Linked DNA regions of Homo sapiens. The protein of the gene in region 7 purifies or fractionates together with the protein of the main gene of each other region. This does not show direct contact. Each region holds a gene or a part of one and is shown on either strand. Other genes may lie near its edges.

Region 1 (2,159 bases), on a different chromosome or scaffold from region 7:
TAATACACACACACACACACACACACACGTAACTTTGGGAGGCCGAGGTGGGTGGATCACCTGAGGTCAGGAGTTTGAGACCAGCCTGGCCAACCTGGTGAAACCCATCTCTACTAAAAATACAAAATATTAGCCGGGCGTGGTAGCGGAAGCCTATAATCCCAGCTATTCAGGAGGCTGAGGCAGGAGAATCGCTTGAACTCGGGAGGCGGAAGTTACAGTGAGCCGAGATTGCACCATTGCACTCCAGCCTGGGCAACAAGAGCGAAACTCTGTCTGTCTCGAGAAAAAATTTTCTTTTCATAGATAGATGAGAAGTTTATTTTGGACTGTGTCGACATGGCATCAGTTATTTCAGGCAGAGTGTAGCAACTTACAGTTTTGTTTACACATGCTGTTGAAATGCAGGTATGAAGGGCTGTATACTATAAATAGCCTAAAACTGGTTTTGCAGTTTGGAGGGGGATAAAAAAAGCTACCACCTTCTCATGTTTGCTTTTAGGCTGAACATCTTCATCTTGAGAGAGGAAGAGGCCAAGAGACATGACTATGAGGTGGACATCACAGTGCTCAAGGAGCCGGCAGACGTGTCATCCTCTCACCTCATACTGGACCCTCCCAAGGAGGATGTGACCGTGTCCCCATCCAGCAAGACCATCACCAGCAAGAAGAAGAAAAAGTAGAGAGACACGAGGACACACACACAGGCTTAGGATGGCACGTGCTGTAAGATTTCCTGAGCATTACAGTTCTTAGCACTGAACTCGTCACAGTGTTTTAACATACCCCTTGGCCCACTGCATCTCAGGTTTCCTACATGGCTGGATTACGGGAGTTCGAGACCAGCCTGGGCAACATAGTGAGACCCCCCCATCTCTGCAAAATTAAAACATCAGCCGACCGTGGTGGTGTGTACATGTGGTTCTAGCTTCTTGGGAGGCTGAGGTGGGAGGATTGCTTGAGCTCAGGAGGTTGAGGCTGCAGTGAGCCATTGCATTCCAGCCTGGGTCACGGAGCTGGTGGCCAGTGTAATCTATAAATAGGCAGCAGGAGAGAGACTCAACACCAAACCAGAATTTTAAAAACTTTTAACAATTTATTAGTCTTATTTTCCAGTAAAATATTCACATAATGTCAAAAGAATGAAATGATAGCGATATAGCCAACTACCTTTAATTAATTCCACATAAATATTTAAAATCTAAAAACCTCAGATCAGCAGACCGAGTCGAAATGTGATTCTTCAAAGCAAGTATTGCTTTACCCTTGTCCTGAATGCAGTCCGTCATATGACCACTAACTTGCATGTGACCAAATGTTTGCAGAGTGTTTTTTAGATATGCTCTCGGTGAGCCGTCATCCGTCAATCCAAGAAGAAGATGTTGTTGAACTGCGTTGCACAAAGTTTCTTGACCTCTTCTGCAACAAGGACACAACAGTGAGGAAGGAAGAGGCAGTCACTTAAAAGGTTACATGATATATAATTAAATTCTTCTTGGGTAAAATTAGGAAGAGAGATTTGCATTGATTTTGACCTTAAATCCCAGAAGACTAGGCAAGAATTTTTTTTTTTTTTTTTTGTTTGAGACAGAGTCTTGCTCTGTCACCCAGGCTGGAGTGTAGTGGTGTGATCTTGGCTCACTGCAGCCTCTGCCTCCCAAGTAGCTGGGACTACAGGTGCACACCACCACGCCCTGCTAATGTTTGTATTTTTTGGTAGAGACAGGGTTTCGCCATGTTGGCCAGGCTGGTCTCGAACTCCTAACCTCAAGTGATCCGCCCACCTTGGTCTCCCAAAGTGCTGGGATTACAGGCATGAACCACTGTGCCCAGCCAAGAAATGTTAACAAGTAGAAGAGGGGAAAAAATCCACCTACAAAACCTACCAGGCCTCAGGAGTTTTGAGCCTATCAACACTGCTGCCCGGGGCCTGAGAAACTGCAAAGTGCCCGGGACACCCAGGGGAGGGGGTTAGAAGCACAAGGCTGGTGACACACACCAAGCACAAGGTTGTCATCCTGGGACAACTAATGGAACAACAAAGAAACGGACAGCAACCTTGAGCTGCAGACCAAGTGCTCCGCAGAGGGGTCAGGATTTTGATCTTACCACATTCACAGTTTAGATCAGGCTTGCATTAACTGATGTTTCTAGTGCGC
Region 2 (3,500 bases), on a different chromosome or scaffold from region 7:
ATCTTTTTATACTTTTTTTATTTTTCAGCTATATGAAATGTATTAACTACCTAAAACAAAAAATAAATTTAAAAAATTAATTTCTGTATAAATGGACAAAACAGATTAAGCAGGCGCAGATCATAGACTCTCAGAGCCATTTGCCTGAGGCCAGGAGTTTGAGATCAACTTGGGCAACATAGTGGGTCCTTATCTCTACAAAACATTTTTTTTTACATGATCTGGGTCTAGATAATTTTTACATTATCTACTTGGAAGTCTGAGGCAGGAGAATCACTTAAGTCCAGGAGTTTGAGGCAGCAGTGAGCTATGATCAATCACTGCACTCCACCCTAGGTGACAGATCAAGACCCTGTTTCAAAAACAAAAAAGAAATCTAAGCCATTATGGACCATAAGGGTTATCTAGTGCTAACTCCCATCCCACGGAAGAGTCCCCTCGCAGTCTTCTGGATAAAAGACCATTCCGTCCTTGAACTAAGCTAGTTCAACAGGGAATTCAAGATCTCTGGGACAGCCCATTCTATACCTGAGTGCCCTGAGCACACTAAACATGCCAGAGATATGTGATCAAGTCAGCTTACTTATTAAGCAGTCTAGTTTTTGAGAAGTCAGAAGTTTAGTCATCCTTAGTGGCTGAGAGAAGAAAATTATTTGAGCCAGGTATATCTAACATACAGTTGACATGAAGATGGAAAAAAGAGTAAACATAGCATGAAAGTCTTGGAATCTAAGATGCTCTCAACTAGCTGGAGCAATGGGACATATAAAACAAGCTGAGGCTTGACAGAGATAAAACAGGTTGTGGCTTAAAAATTTGCATGGGGTAAACTGATTAAAGAACAAATGTAGGCCAGGTGCTGTGGCTTATGCCTGTAATCCTAGTACTTTGGGAGGTCAAGGCGGGTGGATTACTTGAGGTCAGGAGTTTGAGACCAGCCTGGCCAACATGGTGAAACCCTGTCTCTACTAAAAATGCAAAAAAAATTAGCCAGGCATGGTGGCACACACCTGTAGTCCCAGCTACTTGGGAGGCTGTGGCAGGAGAATTGCTTTAACCCAGGAGGGAGAGGTTGCAGTGAGCCGAGTTGACCACTGTACTCCAGCCTGGGTGACAGAGTAAGACTCCATCTCAAAAAAAAAAAAAAGAAAAAAAAAAGAAAAAGAAAAACAAGAACAAACGTAATGGCCAACAAGCATATGAAAACATGTTCAGCATCACTAATTAATGGGGAAATACAACTAAAAAACACAATGAGGTATCACCCTGACAACTATTTGGACAGCTACCACACACACACACCAGAAAATGACAAATGTCGGTGGGGATGTGGAAAACTAGAACCACTGTGTACTGTTGGTAGGAATATAAAATGGTGTAGCCACTATGGAAAATGGCATGCCAGTTTCTCATTACATATAAAATTACCAAGTGATCCAGCAATTCCACTTCTGTGTTTATGTCCAAAAGAATTAAAAGCAAGGTCCCAAAGAGATATTTTCACACCCTTATTCATAGCAATGTTATTCACAATACCCAACAGGCAAAAGCAACCAAAGTATCCATCAAGAGATGAATGGAGCCCGGGCAACATACTGAAACCCCATTTCTACAATAAATAAATAAATAAATAAATAAATAAATAAATAAATAAATTAGCTGGGTATGGTGGCACACACTTGTAGTCCCAGCTACTCAGGAGGCAGAGGATTGCTTGAGCCCAGGAGTTCGAGGTTGCAGAGCCATGATCATGCCACTGCACTCCAGCCTGGGCAACAAAGTGAGACCCTGCCTCAAAAAAAAAAAAAATGTATAAACAAAATATGGTATATACATACAATGATATATTATTCAGCCTTAAATAGGAAGGAAATTCTGATACATGCTACAACATGGATGAAACTTGAGGACATTATATAAGTGAAATAAGCCATCACAAAAAGACAAACACTATACAATTCCACTTATATGAGATATCTAGAGTAGTCAAAATTATAGAAACAGAAAGTAGATTAGTGGTTGCCAGGGACTGAGGAGGGAGAAATGGGGAGCTGTTTAATGGGTGTAGACTTTCAGTTTTGAAAAATCAAAAGTTCTGAAGATTGGGTGCACAATTTGAATATACCTGGCACTACTGAACTATACACTTAAAAATGGTTAGGATGGTAAAATTTATGTTAGATGTATTTTACTACAATTAATTTTTTTTTTAAAAGAATAACAAATGTGAAAAAGACTTGGAGGTTTTGGCTGACCATCTACTCAACATTAGTCAATTGTGCTATGTAGCTACCAAGAAAGTGCTATTTTACTTTCAATTGCATTAAAGGGAATACAAGATAGGAGAGCTCACCTCATTGCTGAGCTGGCCTGTCTACCCTTGGAGTCCCAAGTTCAATTCTGAGTATCCTACTTTAAAAAAGGACACTGCTATCTCAGACCAGATCCCAACGACAGTAATCACAATTTTCAAGGGGCCAGAAACCAAATCAGGACTGTGCCCTAAGAAGTTACAGAAAGAACTGAAGCTGTTTAGCCCAGAAAACAGACTACTCAGAGGGCATGAATACAGCTTTCAGGTACTTCAGAGAGTAGTTCTCTGAAAAAGAGATTTTATCTACATTTTGTATAGACTGACTGCCCCAGAAGGCAGAACAAACCAATGGGTAATTATAGAGAAGTAGAGATCATCTCATTCACACATAAAAACCAGCTGCCACAGCAATCAGGTGCTCACCTGAAGAGTTGTGCAAGGAGACCCTTAATGGAAAATGACAAATGTTTAGTTCTTACTATGTAGTATCTATTATTAATTATATGTTGCAGCTGATGAAACAGAGAAGAGTCAAGTATCCAAGGCCAAAAAGCCAATAAATGATAGGTCTTGACTGACTCCAAAGCCATGCTCTTAATCACTAAGATTTCAGTAACTACCAATAGAATACAGATTTCTATATTGGGAAAGAATTGGGCTCATGATTCTTCTAACTTCAAGATTGTACAATTAAATAAGTCAGAGAATGAAATAAAGAGAGAATGAGTTAAAGTGGACAAGTTTGTGGATGTGTGTGACTACTGAGTAGTGAAGTTATGCAACAGGTGTGGTCTGATAAAAAATGCTTGCTGGGCTCAGTGGCACCTGCCTGTAGTGGCGGCTACTCAGGAGGCTTAGGTGAGAAGATTGCTTGAGGCCAGGAGTTTGAGGCTATAGTATGCAATGATCAAGCCTGTGAATAGCCACTGCACTCCCGCCTGGGCAATGCAGAGAGGGCTCGTCTCTAGACAGACAGACAGACAAACAGACAGTTAAAATTTAAAAGGCTGGGCACAGTGGTGTACACCTGTAGTCGTAGCTACTCAGGAGGCTGAGATAGGAAAATTGCTTGAGCCAGGAGTTCAAGACCAGCCTAGGCAACATAGAAGTTGTCTCTAAAAAATAGGATTAAAAAAAATGCTTAACAGCCTACTGTCTGTGATCAAAAACAGTGCAACATGACGAT
Region 3 (3,500 bases), on a different chromosome or scaffold from region 7:
AGCCGGGAGCGGTGGCGGGCTCCTGTAGTGCCAGCTACCTGAGAGGCTGAGGCAGGAGAATGGCGTGAACCCAGGAGGCGGAGCTTGCAGTGAGCCGAGATCGCGCCACTGCACCCCAGCCTGGGCGACAGAGCCAGACGCTGTCTCAAAAAAAAAAAAAAAAAACTGCATGTTCTCTCCTGCCAGGGATATTAGAGAGCCTAAAAGGATGTGCTAGACATGGGGGAAAGTGAAGATCTCACTGAGGCCCACTGCTGGCTTGAACTGCTCACCATACCTACTTCATGATGAGCATTTGCATTGTATGCTTTGATTGTTACTAACATTTGAGTATACTTTGCTGAACCTTAACACTTAGGGGCCTTGAGGCACACTCCTTTTGGAAAATTATTTACTATTTATTTATCTATTTATTTAGGTATTTATTTAAGACAGGGTCTTGCTCTGTTACCCAAGCTAGAGGGCAGTGGTGTGGTCATGGCTCACTGCAGCCTTGAACTCAGGTTCAAGCCATCTTCCTGCCGCAGCCTTCATAGGAGCTAGGACTGCAGGCGCACACCATCATGCCAGGCTAATTTTTTATAGAGATGGAATCTCACTATGTTGCCCAGGCTGGTCTCCAACTCTTGGCCTCAAGCAGTCCTCCCACCTTGGCCTCCCAAAGTGCAGGAATTGCAGGCATGAGCCACCATGCCTAGCCAGAAAATTATTTAATTATTTAATTGGGACCTCATATTTATGCTTTGTTCCTGTTCTTGACTCTGACTCGTAACTCAGTGACAGGGATAATAAGAAACCATAATCATCACCAATTTTGGGCAGGAGTTTTACGTGGATGGTTAAAAAGAAGGGACCGTCCTGTTTCTCGCATGGACCTAGACTGGAGAGGGGAGAGAGTCGAGAAGGTGGAGATGGGCAGGGATATGAGAACCTTCCTCCCCAGGTCTCCTCTTCCTGCTTTCTCCCATATTTGATTTTTAAATTTGTCTTCTTCCTTTTTCTTCACTTTCCTTTTTATTGCCGTCTTTCTTCATTTACATTTACATTTTCTTTTTTTTGTCTTCACCACCATGAAAACCTTTTTTTTTTTTGAGACAGGATCTTGCTCTGTTGCCCAGGCTGGAGTGCAATGGCACAGTCGTGGCTCACTGCAGCCTCCACCCCCGGGGTTCAAGTGATTCTCCTGCCTTAGCCTCCTGAGTAGCTGGGATTACAGGCACACGCCAATGCCCAGCTAATTTTTGTATTTTTAGTAGAGACAGGGTTTCACCATGTCGGCCAGGCTGGTCTCGAACTCCTAACCTTGTGATCTGCCCTCCTTGGCCTCCCAAAGTGCTGGGATTACAGGAGTGAGCCACCGCGCCCAGCCATGAAAACCCTTTTATTCCATTTTCCCTTCTTTCTTTCTGTGCTTCTCTTTTCTGTTAGCTTCTTTACGTTTTTTTCCACGTCTTTTCTTTTGTTATCTTCAATATTTTTTTTCTGTTTTCTTCACTTGTGGCTTTGTTTGCTGGATTCCTTTTTTGCTTCACCTGCTCCTCTTAGAAAACATGGGTCTAGTGACGACTGTCAGTCATTTGCCTTTCAGAGTTCTGCCATCCTCAGCTTTGGAGCCCCACAGTGCTCATGAAACCCCTAGAAGGTTTGGTTTAGGGGAGACTTTTAGTAGGACTGTTGGAATGAAAAACATCAAGGGTGAGGTAGCCAGCACTGGAACACCTGACAAAGGAAAAAATGTCATTGCAAATCAGAACCTTTGATCCAATAAGTATTTAATCATAGCATCTTAAGATTTTCTCAGTTAGAAATCATCTTAACTGTTTTTACTAATATATAATTCCCATTCCTCAATTTTTAATTCCCTAAGTTAATTTGAAAATTCTCTTCAATATTCCTCTTAATGTATGACATTGATTTTTTTTTTTTTTTTTTTGAGACAGAGTCTCGCTCTGTCACCCAGGCTGGAGTGCAGTGGTGCGAACTCGGCTCACCACAACTGCCGCCTCCCAAGTTTGAGCTATTCTTCTGGCTCAGCCTCCTGAGTAGCTGGGATTACAGGCGTGCGCCACCACGCCTGACTAATTTTTGTATTTTGAGTAGAGACGGGGTTTCACCATGTTGGCCAGGCTGGTCTTGAACTCTTGACCTTGTGATCCACCCGCCTCAGCCTCCCAAAGTGCTGGGATTACAGGCGTGAGACACCACGCCCGGCAGCATTGATTTATTATACAGTTACTGGATTAAAACCAGTAAGAGTAGGAAAAAAGTAAAGACACATTCAAAGTATTAAAATCAGGGTCAAAGAAGTTAAATGGGTGAGTTTTCGGCATCTCTTAAAGCTATTGTGTAAATGCAGCCTCATTTAATACTTAATAAAACTTTAATTAAAGCAGAGCCAAAAAGTTTCAGAGCAACGAATGAATGAAAAAGAAAATCTAATCACCAATTTATATTTTATGGGCATAAATAAATTTTTACAACCAAATAACCTACTAAAGATGTTTGCAATTAGGAAATTATAGCATTAAGTGATTCTCTAAATGATGAATTATCAAGAGAGGGCCTGAAATTGCAAAGGGAGGGCCAAGAGTGAGTGCTATCAATAAATAAATAAATAAATCTAATTAATCAATTAGATTAAATAAACTAATGGTGAGAGCTGTCGTGATGACTCTTCTAATCTTTGAAACAACTGTGAATAAGCTTTATCATTTAACAACAACAAGATAATAGAATAATTTTGCACAGTTTTCCTCCAGGCTTGTTTTGAGAAACCCAGATTAAAGTCACAAATCAAAACACTAATAATGTTTCATTCTGGTAGCCGTTGGCAAGTTTGCCATATGTTAGGACACGGCTCTGCAGCTTGGCACAATTACCAAAGATGTCTCAGCTAGATGAGCAGGGGCCTCTTGGACAAAAGGAGGGAGAGGAGTCTAGAAAGTTCAGTGAAGCAAGTGCACTGTCTGGTTTTCACACAGTGAACGCATAAAAGGATAGGATTATACTTACTTTAAATATCCCATGTTTAAATGACCCTTATTTTCATTACTGGTTGGTCAAAAGAAAATAATGTGTGGACAGTCTTATAATAACAGATGTGTGTCAGATGTTGATCTTGAGCAGGTTGGGGAATCTGGAATACAAAATTATCCTCCCTGAAGAGCATAGCAAGATTTTTTTATCCTATGAAAGATAACATCTGTATATTTAAGTTCAAATCTTAGTGTAGTTTGTACTCTTGCTTTCTTTTTTTTTTTTTCATAGTCTCAGTCTTATACCTGTAAACCATTTTCAGATGATGCTTTTCTTTGAAAAGATGTTTTTCTCCAAAAAGCCATATTGTCTTTACCTGTGTAAGTTAGACTTTATCAGTCAACCCTGGAATCACTGATAATTCTTGTTCGCACATTGACCAAATATGGAAGGAAATGGGTAAACTTTGTTTATTTTTTGAGACGGAGTCTCACTCTGTCACCCAGGCTGGAGTCTAGTGGTAC
Region 4 (4,134 bases), on a different chromosome or scaffold from region 7:
GGCAATACTGTAGCTTCCCTAGGTCCAACTGTGGCCATAACCCCTGGTGGGATCGGGATAATTTGAGAACTGGCATTTCCCCAGCTAGAGGTAAAACTATATATTGAAATAACTTGTTAGCTGGGGGGGAGGGGCGAAGGCGGGGGGGAAGGGAAGGACACTCCTAGGGTTGCTGGCTTAGAGGTGGAAGGGGAGAGAGGGTACTCTATGCAATGGCTCAGAGAAGGAAGGAGGGAAAGTGAGAAAGAGAATAAAGATCTGCGAGCAGCTGCAATCCCCTTTTCCAAAGGACACAAAGCTGCAAAGCCCAGAGATAGGAAGGGAGAGAGCAAACAGCAGAGGAAAGAAAATGGGGCAATGGAAAAAGATCTACCTCCCCCCACACTACTAACCTAGTGGAAGTGGGGGAAATGGGGGAGACACTCCCAGACTCCAGAGAGTAGTAACAATCAACCAACCCCCACCTATTTACCCAGATCTCTCAGGATCCCTGGGGAGAGAACCCTCAGGGTTAGGGCGCAGAGAGAGAATCTGCAGTCTCAGAGCCTGGAGAGCCTAAGGCCCAATCCAGCCCCTTTGCCTCTGCAGCAGAGGGATGGAAAGAAAGATATGCCTGAAAGGGGAAGTGCTCAATGGGGAATGGGTGGGCCACGGGTGGTGAGCTGCGAGGAGCAGGTCTGATAGGAACTAAATGGGAAGAGAAGGAGCCTGGCAGGATACAAGGGGAAGGAAAAAAAAAAAAAAGGTGAGGAAGGAAACAAGTCCAAGAGGAACAGAATTGGGAGAGGGATATCAAAGGGGAGTGATAATCTATCACAGCACTGAGGCAGCTCCAAGAGGAAGGTGGGGGGGAATACATAGGAAAGAATGATTAAGAAGACATCGTAATGTCACAATTGGAGTGAGAACTCCAAAAGAAGACAAGAGGCAGAACAGTGGAGGGTGGGCAAATAAAGCAGAGTGAAGGGTGAGGGCTGAATCAAAATGGTGGGGGGAAGAGACTGTCATGTGGAAAACTTAAAAGACTCGGGAGGGAACAGAGAGGGGACACAGTGACAAGAACCCCAGTGTTAAAGGACCGCTCCAAGAAAGGACGGCAATACAGAAGTTAAAAACCGGTCTAAAAATATGCGGGCAAGTGGACAGCTCCGAAGGAGCCGAGCTGGGGAGGGAAACACTAAATAAAGAGGATGGAGCAGAATTGAAAAAAACGAGAAGAAAGTGTAGGTACAAAATGGATCTAGGGGCAGGTCTGTGAGATGCAGAACAGGAAGGGGATGGGTGACCAGCCCGGGAGGTATCAGAGGTATAGTGAGGTTAAAGGGCATGTCTAAGGGCTAAAACGGGGAGGAGAGGAATTGGAGCAAAGAGGGGACAGGAAGCAGTTTTCAGGCAGAGAACTGAAGGAGAGACAGGCCAAAGAAAGGAGAAGCAAATGAATGCAGTAGCTCAGAGGAGTGCCAAAAAGGAGGTGGGGAAGAGAGGAAACCTCCAAGAGAACACGGGCTGAAACTGAAGGCAGTCTGAGTTAGGGATACATCATTTAAGTGAATAGCAGAAATGGGAGACCTGCAGAGTCAGAGAAGGGGGAGGAGGCTGCTTCCCGGGAAGGCAGAGTCAGAAGCAAGCAGGTGAGGGGAGCGCAGCAAGATCTGAGGTCGGGCAAGGGGCAGAGCTGAGAGGCAGAAAGGTCTGGAAGAGAGGAAAGGGTCTGAATGGTAAACGGGAACAAGAGCTGAGAAGGGGAACAGGCAAGCACGGTGCAGCCAAGTCCGAGGGGATCAGGGGAATGAGCTGGGGCACGGAAGGGTCAGAAAGCCAGCCGAGGGGCATCCCGGGGTGCAGCAGGCTCTGCGAGAGGGCAGACAAGAAATGCGGGTAGTAGGGCCCACGAGGGAACGGGATTCAGTCCAAGGGGAAGACCTGGGGCAGCAGTGCCTGGCCGAACAGGGGTCTCAGATGGATCTCCAAAGGGTTGGAACCGCAGGTCCTAAAGGGACAGCTCCCAGGGTGCAACAGATTCTGAGACAGGAATAATAGCACAGAAGGTAGGTCAAAGAAGGGGCCGAGGACAGATCTGAAGGGTGGTGAGAGCAGAATCGAGAAGAGGGAGAAGCGTCACGGATCTCAAAAGTGGGAGCCACAATTAAGAGATGCAGAATGGTCAATGAGGAGAAGATGGGTCCCAGGAGCACTGCAGAGCCCGGGAGGAGCGAAGGGCATTATGGAGGGGTGGAAGGGGGAAGGGGGGCGCAGAATTGGGAACCGGTTGGCTGAAGTCGGGTAGGCTCCGAGGCAGACACCGAGATCCCAACGGGTCGGGGATGGGGGCGGCGGCGGGGACAGCAGGGCTGGGGCGGGCAGGGGCAGGTCCAAAGGGCAGGAGGGCCCCACGGGCCGGGCCGACGCGCGAAGCGACGGGGACGGCGGGGCCCGGGGGGCTGGGGGGGGGGCCGCTCCTCCCCTCCCCCTCCAGCTCCTCCATTGTTCGCGGGCTCCGGGCCCCGCCGTCCCCGCCTCCCCCTGGACCCCGCAGCGGGGCGGCGCCCGGCCTCGCCGCCCGGGGCCCGTGAGCTCGCGCACTCACCAGCTGGGCGCCCTCAGCGCGGCCCCGGCCTCCAAAATCCCGGCAGCAACGACGGGGGCCCCGGCGCCATGTTCCCCTGCTCCTAGTCCAGCGGCGGCTGAGGCGGCGGCGGCGGCTCCGGCGGCGGGGGGCCGGGCGGACCCTCCCTCGCGGGTTCCCTCCTCCGCCTCCTCCACCTCCTCCTGCCGCCGCGCCGCGGCTCTCCCTCGGGGCGGGGGGCGGGGAGGGGAAGGGGGGAGGGGCGGCAACCAGGGGGAGGGCGGACCAGCCTCGCTCACTCCCTCCCTCCCTCCCTCCCTCGCAATGGCGGCAGCGGCGGCACCTCCTTCCTGCGACGGCCGCTCCCGCGCGCGCGCCCCCTCGCTACTGCGCGTGCGCGGCGCGTGGACCGTTGCAGGGGTATAACGGCCCCTGGGCGCGCGCCGCGAAGGGACAACCAGCGAGGCAGTGGGAAGAGGTCAGAGCGCGTGCGCACCCGAGGGGCTTACTGCCACAGCCGCTGCCTGAGGTTAGGAACGGCCGCGGACGGTGCAGTGCGCGTGCGCCCCCGAAAATGCCGCTATTGCGGCGGCCGCCGTCGCGACTGAGCGCGAGGCGACTTGCAAACGAGCAGAGGGAGCGGGATGGGCGAGCGCGCGTGCGCGGGGGGCTGCCAGCCGGCGCAGCTGCTGGCGCAGGGCGGAGGGAGTGGTCCGCAGGAGCTGCGCGCGCGTCTCAAGCAGCCGATCTACTGCCTCGCGCTGGCTCCTGGAGAAAGCCGAAGGAGAGAGGCATGGCCCGGTTTTGGGGGTGGGGGGCGAAGGGCGCGATCCCGCTCGCGCGGGACCTGACCAGCCAATGGGAAGCAATGGGAGGTGGGTTTGCCGCGCGAGCCGCAGCCGCCGGGATAACGGAGGAGGCCAGAAGGAGCGACGTAACGTGGGGCGGTGGGGCGGGGCTGAGAAGGAGGGAGCGCACCAGAGAGGGAGTTGATTGGAGGATATGAGGAGGCGTGGCCCGCCTCAGCCCAATCCGAGCCCCGCAATTCGTCGTCCCGGAAGAAGAGGCGGGGCTGGAGAGCGCGTGCTCTTTCTCCTGGCTGTGAAGAAAATCTGCAGCCAACGCGCGCGTCCATGCAACTTGTTTTTGGTTCTGTGAACGACTGATCCCCAGGAGAGGGAAGACGGCCTGGTCCTGTGTGCAGCCCAAGCCTGTCACTTAGCATTGTGCAAATGGCTACAAATCGAATGTCAATTAGGGCGCCTGAAGGGAAAAGAGTAGTGATGGGAGAGGGCACCGCTGTAACCCTTGACTCCTCTGAACTGAGGAGGTGTTCCTCTGGGACTCCTCCGGAAGTACAGATCGTGGAAGATGAGCTTCCCGGGCGCCGAGCCAATATTTGTGGAATGCATGAAGAAAGGCTGTTTCCTATTACATTTGGCATTTCTGCCATCAGTCTCTTCATCTATAAAATGGGATAATAATCGTACCTCTCTCGTAGGGCTGCTGTGAAAATTAAATAGATTATATTTTGCAAAGCTCTTGAAATCATGCATTGCATACATAGT
Region 5 (3,500 bases), 900 kb from region 7:
TTTAATGCCTTGTGTATTAAGAAACGAGGAAACAAATAAAAATACCATTTTCACAAAAACTACTTTTTTTCCCTTTTATATTTCTCTCAGAATGTAAGTCAGCTGTCACCAGATGGTCCTTTGCCACAGCTTCCTTTACCGTATATTAACAGTTCAGCAACACGGGTTTTTTTTGGCCATGACAGACGACCAGCGGATGGTTAGTAAAGTTTTATTTAGCCTAATTACCTAATGACAATTTAAAAAAAACTTCTTTTCCTTTCTCCATTTAAAAAACGATGTATAGTTGAATATTTGAAAATTAATAGCTCAGCCGGGTACGATTGGCTCATGCCTGTAATCCCAGCACTTTGGGAGGCTGAGGCCGGCAGATCATGAGGTCAGGAGATCGAGACCATCCTGGCTAACATGGTGAAACCCCATCTCTACTAAAAATACAAAAAATTAGCTGGGCGTGGTGGCACATGCTTGTAGTCCCATCAACTCAAGAGGCTGAGGTAGGAGAATGGCGTGAACCCGGGAGGCGGAGGTTGCAGTGAGCTGAGATCACGACACTGCACTCCAGCCTGGGCGACAGAGTGAAACTTTGTCTCAAAAAAAAAAAAAAAAAAAAAAAAAAAAGGAAAATGAATAGCTCTCTATTACTTCTTTTGTCCTGTCACCTGAAGATAACTACTATTTTGGTGTTTCTCTTTCCAGCTTTAAAAACTAAAAACAATGAAATGAAAACAAAACAGTTGTAATTACAACAGCTTTTCTCACTTAAAGAATGCTTTTGTTATTATATAATCTTCATAAACGTTTAATGTTAGTAAAATATTCTATTCAGTGCTTATAAAGTACTTTATTTTAACATCCACTTGATATATATAGACTGTTTCCATCTTTTGCTTATATAAAATTATATTGTGGCCGGGTGTGGTGGCTCACACCTGTAATCCCAGCACTTTGGGAGGCCAAGACGGGCAGATCATGAGGTCAAGAGATTGAGACCATCCTGGCCAACATGGTGAAACCCTGTCTCTACTAAAAATACAAAAAACTAGCTGGGCGTGGTGGCATGCGCCTGTAGTCCCAGCTACTCGGGAGGCTGAATCAGGAGAATCGCTTGAACCCAGGAGGCGGAGGTTGCAGTAGCCGAGATCTCGCCACTGCGCTCCAGCAAGACTGTCTCAAAAAAAAAAAATCGTATTGTGATGGACATCTTTGTAGATAAAATTTGTTTTTTAAATGTCTTATGGAAATTTTCAAATGTACATAGAAGTAAAGAACAGTTACCAATGTTCTGCTGTTCTTGTAAGACTTTTTTTTAAATGCAGGATGATTTATTTAGGATTGAACCCTAGAATGGCAATAATGGAACAAAAGTATAAATATATTAAGCTCTTCATTATCTTACATTAAATAACTCAGAAACAGAAAGTCAAATACTACATGCTCCCATCGATAACTGGGGTTGGAGCTAAATAATGTGTACACATAGACATTGAGACTTGGGAGGGTAGGGAATGAAGGATGAGAAATTACTTATGGGTACAATGTATACTATTTGGGTGATGGCTACACGAAAAGCCCAGACTTTGCCACCAAGAAAATATGTCTGTATAACAAAACATAACTTGTACCCCCTAAATCTATACAAATATATTTTATATAAATGCATATATTTTAAAGCTCTCGATGGCTGTTAAACTTTGTCATTCTAAACATTCTTATATTTGAATTTAATCAACGTTTCTCCTTGAGATACGATTTAGTATTTTTTTTTTAAATTGTCATATTCATAGTAGCATTGTTTGTAGTAGCAAAAGAGTGAAAGAAATAGAATTCCTAATAGAGGATTAATTGATATGGTTTTGTATATTCACATAATGGATTCATGCTGCAGTACATGAGAATTCATGCTAATTCTACATTTCCCACAACTTGATGCTGAGTGAAGAGTCAATTACAGTATAAGTTTCAAACATAAAAACTAATTTTATGCATTTTTTAGATATACTTATGTGGTAAAATCATGGATGAAAATGATACACTTTAACTTTGGAATACCTCTGGGAAGAAGTGATGCCAGTGGGGGCGAAGGAGAGTAATAAGATTGGGGGTGGTGCAGAGAGGACATCGACTCTATCTGTGATGTTTTTTTTTTATTAAAAATATTTGGGATCATAGGTGAAAGTTGACATTTGTTAAATTTTAGTATACAAATATTTGTTATATTAGTCTCCATGCCTTTTCTGTATATTTGAAATGTTTTATATAAAAATTGCTTGTGGACACGAGGGAAAATACATTCTTTCAGAGTCAGGAGGAAAAGAACATCAGTATTATAAGCAAAATCCAGATAAGCTAGGATTAATGAGAGGATATTTTTCACTCAGAATTAGAAATAGGCAAGAGTGAATGTATATATATATATTTTTTTATTTCTGTACCTTATGTCTATTTAAAATATGTTTTATTTGAGGGCAAGTCTTCATAAACGTGTTGTTAACAAATTTTTTTTAGGTGAAAAACAAGCAGCTACTCATGTAAGTCTTGATCAAGAATATGATTCTGAATCCTCTCAGCAGTGGCGAGAACTTGAGGAACAAGTTGTTTCTGTGGTTAACAAAGGAGTAATTCCATCCAATTTTCATCCCACACAATACTGTTTGAACAGTTACTCAGATAATTCAAGATTTCCACTTGCAGTTGTAGAAGGTGATATACTTGAATTTTTATTTCTGTTTTTTATTTGTTTTACTTACAGCATGATGAAGATAATTTATTGTTTGGCACACATAATTGGTGCTGGGGATGCAAAAATAAATTAGGAACTCATAATTTACTGAGCTGCATTTATAAAACCAGACAAGGGGGACTCTTCTACAGCTATTTGCAATGTGATGTTGGAATATACAAGAGGGAATGGCATTCTTTAGTACAGAGAAATTGGGGAAATCTTTTCAAGGAGGTAATGTAGTATTACAACAGAATCCTGAATACGTGGACATTTATAAGGTAATAAAGGACAGTCTAGGCAGAAATGCAGAGCTATGAAAGCAAGATGCATTTAGAAGATCGAAGCTGAGAATGAGGTGTGATGTTTATTAAAGTTATTAATTTAGGCCTTTTTTTTAATAGAACCAATTACAGTGGAAGTGGCTTTTAGAAACCCTTTGAAAGTTCTACTTTTGTTGACTGATTTGTCATTGCTTTGGAAGTTTCATCCTAAAGATTTCAGTGGAAAGGATAATGAAGAAGTTAAACAACTAGTAAGTTATTAAAAGGTATTTGTAATTATGTTTCAGCTACAGCCTAACAAATGCTGTAGTAACATTTCAATGTACTCTGTTCAGTGAGCTATACTTCTTTTTGGTTTATTTTTCCTTAGTTATAAAAATTATGATATGTACTTATTTTTGAAAATTGAAAATACATAAAAACATAAGGAATAGAAGTGAAACCATCTGTCTTCATAATATTTAGAAATAACCACTTTAACATTTTGCTGTGTA
Region 6 (3,500 bases), on a different chromosome or scaffold from region 7:
AACATCTTTTTGGCTATGTGGGCTGTTTCCAGTTTTGGGGTATTATGAATAGTGCTGCTATGAACATTCTTGTACAAGTCTTTGTTATGAAAATGTATATTGTGTATTAATTTTTCTTGGACAAGTATGTTAGAGTGGAATTGCTGGATTATAGGGTAGGTATATGTTTGGTTTTCTAAGAAACTGCCAGACCAACTGAGCTTTGATCATGTCATACTTCTGCCAACAGTGTATGAGAGTTCCAGTTGCTTCACGTCATTTGGTAGTGTCAATCTTTGTAAATTTTAACCATTCCAGTGTATGTAGTGGTATCTCATTGTGGTTTTAATTTTCATTTCCCTAATAATTAATGATATTGAGCATCTTTTCATATGCAGTTGGTCATTTGAATAACTTCTTTTTTGAAGTATCTGAATAATTGTCCATTTTTTTAAAAAATAGTTTGTTTTATTGAGCTATAAACTGTTTTCATATATTCAGGATCAATGCGTTTGTCATATATATGTACTGCAAACATTTTCTCCCTATCTGTGGCTTGCCTTTTCATTTTTAGAACTGTATATTTTGAAAATAAGTTTTAAATTTTGATGAAGTCCAGTTTTTTTCCTTTTGGCTCATGCTTTTTATGTTTTAAGAATTCTGTCTGGGCACAGTGGCTCACACCTATAATCCCAGCACTTTAAGAGGCAGAGGCGGAAGAATTGCTTAAGCATAGGAGTTCAAGACCAGCCTGGGCAACATAGTGAGACCTCATCTCTATAAATAATTAGTCAAGCATGGTGGCACACAATTGTAATCCTAGCTACTAGGGAGCTGAGACAGGAGGATCACTTGAACCTGGGAGATTAAGGCTGCAGTGAGCTGGAATCAGGCCACTGCACTCCAGCCTGGGTGACAGAGCAAGACCCTGTTGCAAAAAAAGAAAAGAAACAAACCAAAATAAAACAAAAAACAAGAAATTGTTGTCTACTCTAGGATCATAAAAGACTTTCTTCTGTGTTTTCTTCCAGAAGTTTTATAGTTTAGATTTTGTATTTATGATCTGTTTTGGGTTAATTTTGGTGTGTGGTGTGAATTAAAGGTCAAAGTTTTTTTTTTTTTTTTTCCCCATGTGGATATCCAGTTGTTCCAACCTCATTTGGTAAAGGAATTTTCTTTCCCAGTTGTATTGATTTCATATCTTTATTGAAGATCAAATAGCCATATAAGTGTGGGACTGTTTCTGGGTTCCCAATTCTGTTTTACCAATCTACCTAACAGTCCTTATGCCAGTACCACATTGTCTTTAATTTCTGTAGTTCTATAGTAAGTTGGGTAGTATAAGTTCTCTAACATTGTTCTTGACTGTTCTGGGTCTTATAGGTTTCTATATAAATTTTTTAATCAGTTTGTCAATTTCTGCAAAAAGGTCTGTTGAGATTCTTATTGTAATTGCGTTGACTTTATAGATCAATTTGTGGACAATTGCCATCTTTTTTCTTTTTTTTTTTCCAAGACAGAGTCTTGCTCTGTCACCCAGGTTGGAGTCCAATGGCGTGATCTCAGCTTACTGCAACTACCCAGCTACCTGGGAGGCTGAGGCAGGAGAATCGCTTGAACCTGGGAAGTGGAGGTTGCAGTGAGCTGAGATCCGCCATTGCACTCCAGCCTGGGTGACAAGAATGAAGCTCCGTCTCAAAAAAAAATAAAACATAAAAAATTTCTCAGCAAGTTTTCAGTGTAGAGAGTTTGTATATTTTGTGTTAAATTTATCCTAAATTAAAGTTTTAGGCCAGGCGTGGTGGCTCACACCTGTAATGCCAGCACTTTGGGAGGCCAAGGCAGACAGATCACCTGAGCTCAGGAGTTTGAGACCAGCCTGGGCAACATGGTGAAACCCCATCTCTACTAAAATACAAGAGATCACCCGGGTGTGGTGGCATGCGCCTGTAGTCCCAGCTACTGGGGAGGCTGAGGCACGAGAATTGCTTGAACCCAGGAGGCAAAGCTTGCAGTGAGCCAAGATTGCACCACTGCACTTCAGCCTGGGAGACAAAACAAAACTGTCTCAAAAAAAAAAAGTTTTAAATTTCAGCCGGGCGTGGTGGTGCATGCCTGTAATCCCAGCACTTTGGGAGGCTGAGGCAGGTGGATCACCTGGTCAGGAGTTTGAGACCAGCCTGGCCAACATGGTGGAACCCGATCTCTACTAAAAATACAAAAAAATTAGCCAAGCATTATTACGGGTGCCTGTAATCCCAGCTATTCAGGAGGCTGAGGCAGGAGAATCTCTTGAACCTGGGAGGTGGAGGTTGCCGTGAGTTGAGATTGTGCCACCGCACTCTAGCCTTGACAGAGCAAGACTCAGTCTCAAAAAAAAAAAAAAAATTAAATTTCATTTTCTCATTTTTGCTGCAAATATAAAATAAAATGTCTTTTTTTGTTTTTTAATTTTTGTTTTATTGCTTGTATTCTGTGAACTTGCTAAATTAATTTATTAGTTCTAGTAGTTGTTTTATAGAGTCCTTAGGGCTTTTTACATAAACAATGATTCCATCTGTGAATATAAACAATTTTGCTTCTTCCTTTCTGCTCTTGTATGTCTTTTATTGCTGCTTTTGACCTATTTCAATGACAAAGATTTTCAGTAATATGTTGAATAGAAGTGAGAATAGACATCCTGTGTTTATTTTACTTCACCACTAAGTATGATGGTAACTGTAGGTTTGTCCGTGGATACCCTTTATCAGATCGTAGAAGTTCCCTTTTATTCTTAATTTGTGTCATGAACGAGTGTTGAATTTTGTCAAATGCTTTTTCTGCGTTTGTTGAAATGATCACGTGGGTTTTCTCCTTATACTGTTAATAAGATGAATCACACTGATTGAGTGTCAAGTGTTAAGCCAACTATGTATTCCTGGCATAAACCACACTTGGTAATGAAGTATTATTCTTTTCTATATCACTGCATTTGATTTGCTAATATTTAAGCATTTTTAAAAGTTATTAATAGATTCCGTTTTTTAGAACAGCTTTTGGTTTATAGAATATTTGAGCAGAAAGTACAGAGTTCCCATATACTCCCTTCCCTACCCCAAACCTAGTTTCCCCATTAACATCTTGCATTAGTGTACTACATTTGTTACAACTGATAAACCAATGTTGATACATTGTTATTAACTGAAGTAATAGTTTATATTAGGGTTCACTGTTTGTGTTATATAATTTTATGAGTTTTGACAAATGCATAATATCATATATCCATCATTATAGTCTCATACAGTATAGTTTCACCTCCCTAAAAAACCATGCTTCCTTGGCCAGGCGCGGTGGCTCATGCCTGTAATCCCAGCACTTTGGGAGGCTAAGGTGGGCGGATCACGAGGTCAGGAGATCGAGACCGTCCTGGCTAACACGGTGAAACCCCATCTCTACTAAAAATACAAAAAATTAGCCAGGCATGGTGGCGGGCCCCTGTAGTCCCAGCTACTCAGGAGGCTGAGGCCGGAGAATGGCCTGAA
Region 7 (3,500 bases):
TTTGAAATATGTAATACTTTTTTACTAACTGTGGTCACGTTGCTGGTGCAATAGATCACTAAAACTTATTCTTCCCGTCTAACTGAAACTTTATATCCTTTGTCAATCCTGTCATCTTAAATTACTTATGTGTGTATTTGAATACAGAGTGACAAGTTTCTTATTTTACTTATTGTCCTTATGTTAAGTTTGGTAAAATGGAATATGAATTTAAGTGCAACTGGTATACTTAGAAAAACCAAGCAACAAGAGGGAACATTTTATATTAATTTGAGTATTTGTATAAAGATTTCATACTTGGGTTCCTTTACTTTTCTAGGCTTAATGAAAACTCAAAATTAATAATCTTTAAAATGCTTAAATTATGATTATATTAATATCTCTACTTTCTATAGATAATATACTCTTAAACAAGTAAATTCTCTTTTGAAGTTATTCTATTTGCTTATACTTTGTACTTATTCCAAAAGACTGGTCAATTTTACATTTTCATCTCCTTCTCTGAATTTAAGAAACTCTTTTATATTTAGAGTTTAAAAACTACAGGTGGATAAAAAGTAATAAATACAAGGTCCTTCTATTCAATTGTCTTCAATGAAAGTGATGTAATCTCAAAAACAATTGGTTAACACATTTATCCCCGTTAAATGACACATAAGGCTAAGGGAACATTTTTATATTACACTGATGCTATAATAAATGGGCTGATTTAATATTGTTGGTTGCAACTTACAGCATTTCTGTCTACTTTAAAGTTAGGAACTTCATGGTTATTTTGGCATTCTTCCTATGAATTACAATTAAAATAATGTAATTAGTCTGTAAAATTCAAAATGCTACCTTTACTAATAAAGGAATAAAACCTAAATTATATTACTTTGAGGTCAATGATAGGTTCGCATGAACTATTTGCTTTTCTATATCTTTCTCTTTTAAAAGAAAATACAGTTTTCTTCCTACTGCAGAAGTATCAGATTCTTGCAGCATCCATGACACTTGTAAGCATTCAGTGGTCAGACACCACTACATATCCTTCAAATGATGTGGCCCAGTGAAGCTGGAGGGTGTCGTCACGGAGCCAGGCAGCCTGGTATCTCAGCCATCCACCAGGACAGAGCCAGCAGGCACTAGCTGGTGTGCTGAATCTTGACTAAAGTGGGAAATGGATTTTGCATTTTGAAAGTCAACTCTTCTAACATTGAACCTTAGGACATACCTGTTAGATAAAAGTGCATTGAGGGCTTCAGAAATTTACTGGATCAAATTTATAAAGCTCCTCTGCCAAAATTACTCTTAGAATAAGTTAAATCTTAATTTTATTATTCCTCTGGGTTTCTGAATTTATACCGTGTTATACATATTTTTAAAAGTATGAGTAAATGTATGTTCAGAACTATAACTGTGTTGTCTGAATTATTGACTATGTGTGATATATGCTAAATGAAGTATACTTGTAGGTCATTTAAAAGTGACAAAAATTTAAATCACAGAATATTAATCACCAAGGCCCATCGCCCATCACACTGAGTTTGCCATTTGGATCTTTAGACAAACGAAAAATTCCAATAAAATAAAAATACGTTTCATGTTTTTTTCCTCATTGGCCTCTTGTGCTCACTGTTAAAAGCACACGGGGATTTGGATTCTTGTTTCTTCTATTGTCCTATTATCATCTTTTGACAACACGATTCGTTAACTCATCTCCCACAGATGTTAGAAAAATGAACTTACAGGGTTTTGTTACAAGTTCAAGATTTCTCATGCCTCCTGTTGGCCTCTCCTTAACACAAGAGCTGCCTAAAAAAGTGTAGAGAGTATCTTCCATTTCTTTAAACTTTAGTTACCTAGGTCTGGTGGAAACATAATGACACACACACACACACACACACACACACACACACACACACACCATTTAATTCTATAAGGCTGCACAAGGTGGGCCCCATTCTTTAGACATCATTCTGACTGGGAAAATGCCCTGCTAGATTTTCAAACCATGTACTTTGCTACACTTTGTAACACTTTGGTGGTTAGGCTGGAGTAGCCTGGCATCTGGAATCATGATGTTTTATCATGAGAAACTGAGAGGATACTGTTTCTCTTTTCTAAAAAGAGAAAGAAACCCTTTGCTAGGGCTCATTAAAAATGGTTTTAAAATTGGAGCCAATAAAACACGATTGTCAATTCCTACAGCCTTTTTATCTCAGCAGCATTTTTAAAAGGCATCATTTCTCTCTCCCCTGAAATCCTACTTGCAACACACACAGCCACATTTCTAACTAGCAACAACAGAGGCAGCAGCAACTCTCCAACTTCTTTGTCACTGGTGAGCAGGCACACAGACCAACTGGAGCTAGAAGCCTCTCCACTCCTCCATCCCAATTTTCAAGTGCACTCTTCTCAGAAATGGGAGTTGCTAGGCAAGATTCACCCCATCACCCTGAAATCTCTTGCTTTACTCTCCTTTAAAAGTGAAAAGGAAAGGCTTTCCACAACATAGAAAAGTTTGCCTGGGCACATGATACCAGCATTTCCAATAGTGACCCTAATAGACAAAGCATTTTGGAGTTCTGACATCGACAGGGAGCAGATCCCAGTCATGAAGAAACAACTTGAGTGTGTGACGGCAAGACCATGAAAGCCTTCCTTTGCAAGCATCGCCTGGGCTCTTCTGCTCACCCAAGGCAGAACTGAGGAGGGGTGGGGTGGGCATTCCTCACCACAGGATCCTTTTTCTTGAGCAAGCCCATCTTAAGATTTGTAGGGAGAGCTGGCTTAGAGAGACTTCCAAAGCTACACTTCTAACTGTCCTGGCCTTTGGCCCCATCTGCCTGTCAATTTCAGTCTGAGTCCACAATTCCCATGTTTACGGCTCTGGGGATATCTAGAACCTCGGCTTTGGAGCGCTCAGGGATGCTGCTAGGCCAGTTCCCTATTGACCTTTCAGGGACTCTGAAATCAACTTTCCTCACACACTCTGAATTGTTTGCGTTTGTTTTCATCCTGCCAGAGCCACCCGCCCAGGCCACCCATCTCTTCCCTCCTCCCTGCCCCCTCCCCTCCCTCCGGCCTCTCTGGCTCTACCCCCCCCTCCCCCGCCCTCCTCTTTGTTGTCTCCTACCTGCTGGCCAGGCTCTGCCTGCAGTGCTGCCTGAAGGGCATCAGGTGGTAGTTCATGGCGTCCAGCAGCAGCTTCTGGCAGACCGGGTCGGTTCGCATGAAATCCACTGACTGGACCCGCTCCACCAGCTCCGGGGCCGGGATGAGGGCGAAGCGGAGGCGCTTCATGAGGTCAGGCGCATACTGCATGCGGGTCTCGCGGTCGTGCTCCAGCCACAGCACGGACATCTGGAAGAGCGCCAGCTCCGACTCCACGGGGGGCGGCAGCGAGTCCAGCAGGGCGCGCATCTCCTCGAAGTTGAGCAGCAGCACATCCTCCACCAGGTACTTGTTGGCCAGCTTCTTGGTCTCCTCCAGGCCGTGCAGCGCGGCGATCTTGC

What was found.
Region 1: the proteins of KLHL14 (region 7) and CCZ1 purify together in Homo sapiens (affinity purification with mass spectrometry, with the first as the bait; one large-scale study listed by BioGRID). This does not show direct contact.
Region 2: the proteins of KLHL14 (region 7) and NEU3 purify together in Homo sapiens (affinity purification with mass spectrometry; one large-scale study listed by BioGRID and IntAct). This does not show direct contact.
Region 3: the proteins of KLHL14 (region 7) and MYO10 purify together in Homo sapiens (affinity purification with mass spectrometry; one large-scale study listed by BioGRID and IntAct). This does not show direct contact.
Region 4: the proteins of KLHL14 (region 7) and ARHGAP35 purify together in Homo sapiens (affinity purification with mass spectrometry; one large-scale study listed by BioGRID and IntAct). This does not show direct contact.
Region 5: the proteins of KLHL14 (region 7) and TRAPPC8 purify together in Homo sapiens (affinity purification with mass spectrometry; one large-scale study listed by BioGRID and IntAct). This does not show direct contact.
Region 6: the proteins of KLHL14 (region 7) and TANGO6 purify together in Homo sapiens (affinity purification with mass spectrometry; one large-scale study listed by BioGRID and IntAct). This does not show direct contact.

The regions. Positions count from the first base shown.
Region 1 is NC_000007.14:5,924,892-5,927,050, reverse strand, and holds the end of CCZ1 (vacuolar fusion protein CCZ1 homolog), read right to left. Parts: intron 1,420-2,159; coding exon 1,364-1,419; 3' UTR 684-1,363; coding exon of another isoform or gene 503-683; 3' UTR 501-502; downstream 1-500. Other genes in the region: RSPH10B (radial spoke head 10 homolog B), read left to right, coding at 503-683. UniProt on the Homo sapiens protein: Acts in concert with MON1A, as a guanine exchange factor (GEF) for RAB7, promotes the exchange of GDP to GTP, converting it from an inactive GDP-bound form into an active GTP-bound form.
Region 2 is NC_000011.10:74,998,933-75,002,432, reverse strand, and holds part of NEU3 (sialidase-3), read right to left. Parts: intron 1,627-3,500; exon of another isoform or gene 1-1,626. UniProt on the Homo sapiens protein: Exo-alpha-sialidase that catalyzes the hydrolytic cleavage of the terminal sialic acid (N-acetylneuraminic acid, Neu5Ac) of a glycan moiety in the catabolism of glycolipids, glycoproteins and oligosacharides.
Region 3 is NC_000005.10:16,695,289-16,698,788, reverse strand, and holds part of MYO10 (unconventional myosin-X), read left to right. Parts: intron 1-3,500. UniProt on the Homo sapiens protein: Myosins are actin-based motor molecules with ATPase activity. Unconventional myosins serve in intracellular movements. MYO10 binds to actin filaments and actin bundles and functions as a plus end-directed motor.
Region 4 is NC_000019.10:46,859,663-46,863,796, reverse strand, and holds the start of ARHGAP35 (rho GTPase-activating protein 35), read right to left. Parts: upstream 2,801-4,134; 5' UTR 2,741-2,800; coding exon of another isoform or gene 2,477-2,740; intron 676-2,476; coding exon of another isoform or gene 589-675; intron 1-588. Other genes in the region: translation initiation factor IF-2-like, read left to right, coding at 589-675, 2,477-2,740, 2,901-3,572.
Region 5 is NC_000018.10:31,870,129-31,873,628, reverse strand, and holds part of TRAPPC8 (trafficking protein particle complex subunit 8), read left to right. Parts: intron 1-90; coding exon 91-199; intron 200-2,508; coding exon 2,509-2,703; intron 2,704-3,126; coding exon 3,127-3,257; coding exon of another isoform or gene 3,258-3,269; exon of another isoform or gene 3,270-3,272; intron 3,273-3,500. UniProt on the Homo sapiens protein: Plays a role in endoplasmic reticulum to Golgi apparatus trafficking at a very early stage. Maintains together with TBC1D14 the cycling pool of ATG9 required for initiation of autophagy. Involved in collagen secretion.
Region 6 is NC_000016.10:68,853,531-68,857,030, forward strand, and holds part of TANGO6 (transport and Golgi organization protein 6 homolog), read left to right. Parts: intron 1-3,500.
Region 7 is NC_000018.10:32,766,524-32,770,023, forward strand, and holds part of KLHL14 (kelch-like protein 14), read right to left. Parts: coding exon 3,122-3,500; intron 1-3,121.